Linked DNA regions of Homo sapiens. The protein of the gene in region 1 purifies or fractionates together with the protein of each later gene. This does not show direct contact. Each region holds a gene or a part of one and is shown on either strand. Other genes may lie near its edges.

The links.
Region 2: the proteins of CTNNBIP1 (region 1) and CDH5 purify together in Homo sapiens (co-immunoprecipitation; one study listed by IntAct). This does not show direct contact.

What each region holds. Positions count from the first base shown.
Region 1 is NC_000001.11:9,865,269-9,869,086, reverse strand, and holds part of CTNNBIP1 (beta-catenin-interacting protein 1), read left to right. Parts: intron 1-3,818. UniProt on the Homo sapiens protein: Prevents the interaction between CTNNB1 and TCF family members, and acts as a negative regulator of the Wnt signaling pathway.
Region 2 is NC_000016.10:66,390,572-66,394,389, forward strand, and holds part of CDH5 (cadherin-5 preproprotein), read left to right. Parts: coding exon 1-19; intron 20-1,564; coding exon 1,565-1,812; intron 1,813-3,818. UniProt on the Homo sapiens protein: Cadherins are calcium-dependent cell adhesion proteins. They preferentially interact with themselves in a homophilic manner in connecting cells; cadherins may thus contribute to the sorting of heterogeneous cell types.

The DNA.
Region 1 (3,818 bases):
TTGATGCTGCAGTGAGCCATGATCGCACCACTGCACCCCAGCCTGGGCAACAGAGGGAGACTCTGTCTCATAAATTTAAAAAATTTTTAAAAGACAAAGAAGCTGGTGGAATATATACCAGACTGTCAGAAATTTTGTTTTTGACAAGGGGTGCTGGGCGTGGTGGTTCATGCCTGTAATCCCAGCACTTTGGGAGGCCAAGGTGGGCAGATCACCTGAGGCCAGGAGTTCAAGACCAGCCTGGCCAACATGGCAACATCCTGTCTCTATTAAAAATACAAAAATTAGCTGAGCATGGTGGCAGGTGCCAGTAGTCCCAGCTACCCAGCTACTTGGGAGATTAAGGCAGGAGAACCGCTTGAATCTGGGAGGCGGAGCTTGCGATGAGCCAAGATCACACCACTTTACTCCAGCCTGGGCAACAGAGCTAGACTCTGTCTCAAAAAATAATAATAATAATAATTGTTAGGGGATAGGACTATATAAGAAACTTTAACTTTCCAAGTCACACATTTTTGTAAAACTAATATTTTAACATTGTACATTTGTTTCTTTGTCATAAGGGAAAGTTAAAAAAAATATTTTTAGGAGAACTCTTGCCTAGCCGAACCCACAGTTAAGAATAAAAATGAGCTCTGCCAAGTTGTTGAGGAAGGTCAGTGACCCCACTTAGCTGTTGACCTTGCCCTGAAACTGCTGAGCAGTAGGAGCAAGCTGGCAGCTGTGACCAACTGTGTGGGCCGTGGAGTCCAGGCCCTTCTGGGTGGGTGGTGTCTGTCCACAGCTACTTCTTTCTCCGGGGAGGGGTCTTCTGGAGCTGAAGCTGGAGCCAGGGAAGACCCCAGGGAATCGTTGCGGAATAGGTGGTGGGAGTCACTCCCTGCTGCTGGGGCGCCCTGTGGACTGCCCCTACCTCCATAAAGATACCTCTAACCTGGCTGCCGGGGCCTGAGCCACACAGACCTGAGCTGCAGGAGGTTCTGAGAATTCTGTGGACTGGGAGTGGAGAGGGGAGGGGTCAGCCATGTCTGGAAGAGTTTCATAAGCATATTTATTTTCTTTGCGAGCCTAACGACACCACAAACAAACACAACAACAATAACAGCAGAACTGCAATCAGCCCAGTCCCATACTGGGCTTACCCATGTGAGGGCAGGACCCTGCATCTGCCTGTGCCATGTGGGCAAATGGATCTCTGTTAAAATCTCACCTGCCCACCTTCTCCATCGCAGAGCCAATCTCAGCTGATGCTGCAGGATCCTGCTGTCAGAGGCTCAGACACTGCTTAGGTGGAAGAAGCCCTGGATTGTTGTCTCCAGGGACTGGGGCAGGATGCGGGGGCCAGAGCAGGGTGCAGAGACTGCCATAATGAACCCCAAAGGCCTGGAGCCTGTGGGTAATGGCCTGGCGTGCACCTCCTGCCCACTAGGTGGCGCTGTCTCTCAGCAAATGCTCCAGGCTGCTTTAGGTGTTCCCTGAGCCAGAGGAGGCTCCATCTACCCCGGGACTCCTCTAGCAGGGGGTCTGAGGCAGACCCTCCAACGGACAGCACCCGACCTTGGTCCTGAGGGTCTGGCCGCCACCTTTAGCCCTGCACATGCTTCCCCTCCAGGGCTGGATGGGTCTGGTACCTGGGGCACTGCTCCCTTACTTGAGGCCCAGGGAGGGGGCCGTGGGCACCCCTTTACCCCCTACCCTTCGATTCCTTCCTCGGTCACATTTGTTGAGTATCTATGGGGAGCCAGGCAGGTGCTGGAGACCCTGGGGTGGGGGCCTCCCCTTACGGGCTCACCAGGTGGTTCCAGCAGAGGCCCCAGTGGCCCCCCAGTTCCCAGCCTGCCTGGCCTCTGCTGGGCTGAGACCACCAATGACAGCCTCCTTTCCCTCCCTTGTCCTTCACGTCACCCCTCACTGGCTGTTTCCCACTCCCTTCCCTCAATCAGGGCTGTCATCCTCCAGGGTTGCCCCCTCTCTTCTCCCTGTTCCACACGCAGTGCTGTGATCTCAACAGAGAACATAGCCAGCTGACTGTTGGCCAGCATCACCACAGCCACCCATGCCCAGCTGACATGGATTTTCCACCTGTGCTCTGCCCTGACCAATGCCCAGCAAGTACACGGCGCCCGAGGACTCAGCCTCGACTCCTCTCTTCCTCAGGAACCTAATGGGTTACTGAGTCCATCCTAAGGCTCCCCAGACCTGCTTCATTCTCTCCCTCTCATTTCCAGCCCCCTCTTGGACTGAGCCCATATTCACTCTTGTCTCACAGCTTCAGATCACTCCTATCTGGCATCTCGACTTCCCATCTTGCCCCCTCAGGTCTGCTCTCTACCCCCACAGCTGGAGAGACTTTTGGAGGCTTAGAGTGACATTAGTGGGTCTCTACTCGACTTTTTTTTTTTTTTTTGAGAAGGAGTTTTGTTCTGTCACCCAGGCTGGAGTGCAGTGGCGTGATCTCGGCTCACTGCAGCCCCCACCTTCCCAGTTCAAGCAATTCTCCTGCCTCAGCCTCCCGAGTAGCTGGGGTTACAGGCTCCCGCCACCACACCCAGCTGATTAGAGACGGGGTTTCACCATGTTGCCCGGGCTGGTCTCAAACTCCTGACTTCAGGTGATCCATACACCTTGGCCTCCCAAAGTGCTGGGATTACAGGCGGGAGCCACCATGCCCAGCCTCCACCCAACTTAAAATCATTCAGTGGCTCCCCACTGCCTTGAGGATAAAATCCAGCCCCTTTAGCTTGGTGAGCAAGACCTGACCTCACACTGTAAAGGGCCATAGTGAATGGCCATGTTCATGCCTTTCTGCCACTGCATTTGCCTCTTGGCCGCCAGGAACCAGCCTTCACCCCCACCTTACTCCCCTGCCCCCTGCAACCTGGGCCAGGCCCTCCTGTCACATGTGCATGTACCTCAGCTGTGCTACACCCACACTGTCTCCTAATCCATCTATTGACCGGGCTCTGAGCTCCTTGAGCTTGGAACTGTGGCTTCCATCTTATTGTTTGTCATGTTTGGACAAATAAATGAACTGGGTTCTAGTCCCCAAGGGTGTCTAAGCAGACCTGGAAACCAGAGAGACTTGGCTTTGAACCAGAGGAAGTCAGTACTTCTCAGGAAGGTCGCCCTGCTGGGAAGGGGCAGCTGCAGGAATGGGGAGGTCCAGAGCTTCCTGAAGCAGGCCTGTGGAGTGCTGAGTCCAGGCTTCTCTCATGGTCAGTGTGGCTCCCTCTAATGCGTAGTGATTTTTTTCCCAGTTATAGAATTGTGCATAGTCATTTTAAAAAACTGGGGAAAGGGAGAAAGAGCAGAAAAGTTTGAAATATTGAATCCTACTGCATAGCTGTAATCACTCTTACCCTTTGTTAAGTTCCCTGTCATCCTTTCACAAACATGCATACATCTGTAGCACAAGGCTGGGACCATAAACATTTTAATACCTGTTTTTTTTTCTTGTTGTTTTTTTGTTTTGTTTTGTTTTTTGAGACAGAGTCTCGCTCTGTCACCCAGGCTGGAGTGCAATGGTGCGGTCTCGGCTCACTGCAAACTCCACCTCCCGGGTTCATGCCATTCTCCTGCCTCAGCTTCCTGAGTAGCTGGGACTACAGGCGCCCGCCACCACGCCTGGCTAATTTTTTATATATTTTTTTAGTAGAGACGGGGTTTCACCGTGTTAGCCAGGATGGTCTCAATCTCCTGACCTCGTGATCCACCTGCTTCGGCCCCCCAAAGTGCTGGGATTACAGGCGTGAGCCACCGCGCCCGGCCTTAATACCCATTTTTAACATCCATTTTTTACGCATGATAATTTCACTGTG
Region 2 (3,818 bases), on another chromosome or scaffold:
CATCATCAAGCCCATGAAGGTTTGTAGGCCAATGGCAACAATGTCAAACGTGAGGCTTGGGGCTCTTGGCACCCACAGGTCCTGCTTGGGGATTGCTCCTGGGCCAGAGACCATCAAAGGACCATCAAAGCTCCAAGGTGGTCATGTGTTCATGGAGACTGTGATCCAGTGTCTTAGGCCGAGTTACTTGGGAAGCAAATCTTAAGGCCATGACTGGGTGTAAATTGTTTATCTGGGAGGTGATCCCAGGAAGCCCCAGGAGCAATGACCCACTGCGGGGTAAGTGTGGAACACATCCCAGAGTTGGAGAAGCTGAGGGTGAAGGAGCTGGGGTATTTATACACCCGCTGTCCGTGGTGTTGACTGGGGGCTGCCCCTGGAGTTATTACCTCTCTGGCACTTTCTGGCCTGCCATGTGTCCTGGCCAGTAGAAATCCATCAGCATGAAGAAAACAGTGAGTAATTGTGGTGACATGGATGGCCACTGACACTGGATGCTGCTGACAGCCAGAGAAGCCAGATTAACTGAATCTGGAAGAGGAGGGAGAGGTCCTGTGAGGGGCATAAAAAATGCCTCTGGAATGGCCATGCAGAGGATTGCAAGTCCTGGGCCTGAGTCCTTCTCTGAACCAGCCCCATGCTGGGGCTTGGAAACACCAAGGAGAGGCAGACACAGCCTCCAGTGTCAGCAAAGGTCTCAGCGAATGGGGAAGACATATGCATGAACAAAAAAAGTACAGCCAGGTGTAAGTGATACACAGCAGCTCTGAACAGGGAGCAATTACCTCTGCTAGGAGGGGTTTCTGAGAGAGCATCTGATTACCTTCTGCTTGGCTTCCTGAGGGATGAGTAGGAGTTTTCTAGGCAGGCAAGGGCAGGAGAAGGATCTTGAGCAAAGGCATAAAGAAAAAGCATGTCCGGCCGGGCCCGGTGGTTCACGCCTCTAATCCCAGCACTTTGTGAGGCCGAGGCAGGTGGATCACCTGAGGTCAGGAGTTTGAGACCAGCCTGGCCAATATGGTGAAACCCCGTCTCTACTAAAAATACCAAAATTAGCTGGGCGTGGTGGCAGGTGCCTGTAATCCCAGCTACTTGGAAGGCTGAGGCAGGAGAATCGCTTGAACCTGGGAGGTGGAAGTTGTAGTGAGCGGAGGTCGTGCCATTGCACTCCAATCTGGGTACCAAGAGCAATATTCTGTCTCAAGAACAAAGAAAAAGCCTGTCCTTAAGGACCTGTGGGTAGAACCACTAGTGACGCTCTTAAGAGCAGGACCATAGTTGATCCATTCTATGTCCCAAACGCTGGAAATAGGGCCAGGCACACAGCCAGGGTTGTGGGTGTGGCCATGAGGCTGCTGAGATGAAATGGGGAGCAGCTGAAGACAGACACCAGGCCCAGCCGCTGTCTTGATGACCTCAGAAATATCACTTGTCGAGGCCATGGGCCCCTCATCTATAAAATGGGTGTCATCCTGGTACTACCTTGCATAGTTGCTGTGCAGATCATGTGCCACACACATGCTTGGCCCAGAGCAGGCACTCACCATCCTTTTTCCTTACGCAGCCTCTGGATTATGAATACATCCAGCAATACAGCTTCATCGTCGAGGCCACAGACCCCACCATCGACCTCCGATACATGAGCCCTCCCGCGGGAAACAGAGCCCAGGTCATTATCAACATCACAGATGTGGACGAGCCCCCCATTTTCCAGCAGCCTTTCTACCACTTCCAGCTGAAGGAAAACCAGAAGAAGCCTCTGATTGGCACAGTGCTGGCCATGGACCCTGATGCGGCTAGGCATAGCATTGGGTAAGGGGGCGTGTGTCGATGAGAATGATAAGGACAATCCGGCCTGGATGTTCCTATGCCTGCTGGTCTGAGGCCAGGACTCAGAGAGGGGAACTGGCTTCTCCTAGCACTTACAGGGAAAGTGACAGAGGCAAGACCAGAAGCCCAAGCTCTTGCACTTGGCAGCCTGGCATCTTGACCTGCCTGGACTCCCCCACCTAGCATGGTCCTGGGCATCCAGAGCTACTTGTCCTCTGTCCGGCCTTGAAGGCTTATTCTCTGCACCACAGCTCTCACCAGTCCTATGTGGTAAGATCTGACAGTCAAGAAAGCAACCAATCAGACGACACACCAGAGGCCCCTTCACTAAAACTGTATTCTTGAATCTATCTTCCCCAAACCACAAAAGTAAGAAGTGTTCATTTTATACAGTGAAACAACACAGAGATCTACCAAGAAAACACTGATAACCCCCACTCTCAGATAACTCATGTTCGTGGCCTAACCTGGTCCTATTGCTCCTTTCTTTTCGTGACCACACAAACATGTGGATGCATTTATGGTGGGTTTGTTGTTGTCTGTTTGCTTTTGATGTTTGATTGTTTTAAAATTTTTTTGGATCATGCCATGCTGGTTTCATCGATATTTGCTCTTCTATCTTAACTAAATTTCTCTTTTACAATCTTTAGAAAAAAATGATATAGTTCCAACAGATACTTTTTAGAGCCATATAATATGCAATAGTAAGTATAAATTCAATTCAATCTTATTTTATTGTAGATGCATAGCTGATTTTGCCAGCACCATTTACTAAATATTATAATAATAAGTCATCGTTTTCCCACCTTCATTATATACTAAGTTTTCTGTATATACCTGTATCTACTTCTAATTCTCTGTCCTATCCATCATTCTATAGCAAAGCTATTCTGTTTTATTCTACTAGCTTGTATAAGTCCATTCTCCTATAAAGAAATAGTTAAGACTGGGTAATTTATAAAGAAAAGAGGTTTAACAGGAAGTATAGTGGCTTCTCCTTCTGGGGAGGCCTCAGAAAACTTACAGTCCTGGGGAAGCAGGCACGTCTTACACGGCCAGAACAGGAGTGGGAAGGGAGTTGTTACACACTTTTCAACAACCTGGTCTCATGATAACTCACTAGCTTGAGAACAGAACCTAGGGGATGGAGCTAACCCATTCATGAGAACTCTGTCCCATGGTCTATCCACCTCCCACCAGGGCCCACCTCCAACACTGGGGATTACATTTCAACATGAGATTCGGTGGGGACACAGATCCAAACCATATAGCTTTACACTAGATCTTAGATATACATAAAAGTCCTTCCCATGTTGCTTTTTTATTTGATATAATTTTTTGTCAACTCTCATTTTTTCTTTTGTGAAATTTAAAATTTTGTATCCAGGTTTTTTAAACATTAGAATTCTAGTGTTTATATATTAATTTTGGTATAGCTAATGTTTCAAGGGTATTAAGTCTTCTTATTAAGGACAAAATATGTTCTTCCATTTTGGCCTCATATCCTAAGTTTTGGGACTACTCTTCATTGCCATTCTTTTCTAAATAGCCTGTAATTATAATTTTTGTTTCTCCTTTGATCCAAGGGTTTATTTAAGAGATTGACTTGATTTCTTTATTTTCATTTATAAGTCATAGGGTGTTTTTTTTGTTTTGCTTTAGCTTGTTCTGTGATGTGATACAATTGTATTTGTGTCCACTTCTTCCTAGAATATCTAAGTTTTGACTTTATGTATTTAAATTTTTCTATTCAGTTAACAAAGGTTTGCAACTATTTTACCTTCATTATGGTTTGTAACTTTCATCCAAATGTAATTAGCCAATTTGTTCTGCTTAAATATTTTGCCTTTAATTCTGTTTCCTGATGTTACATTTGTTAGTCCTGTTTTCATGTTATTCATATACGCCTAATGCAAATTTTACAACCTTTACTTTTAATTTTTCCAGGTCATTTGGCATTAAGTTGTCTCTTGAAAACAAGAATGCAT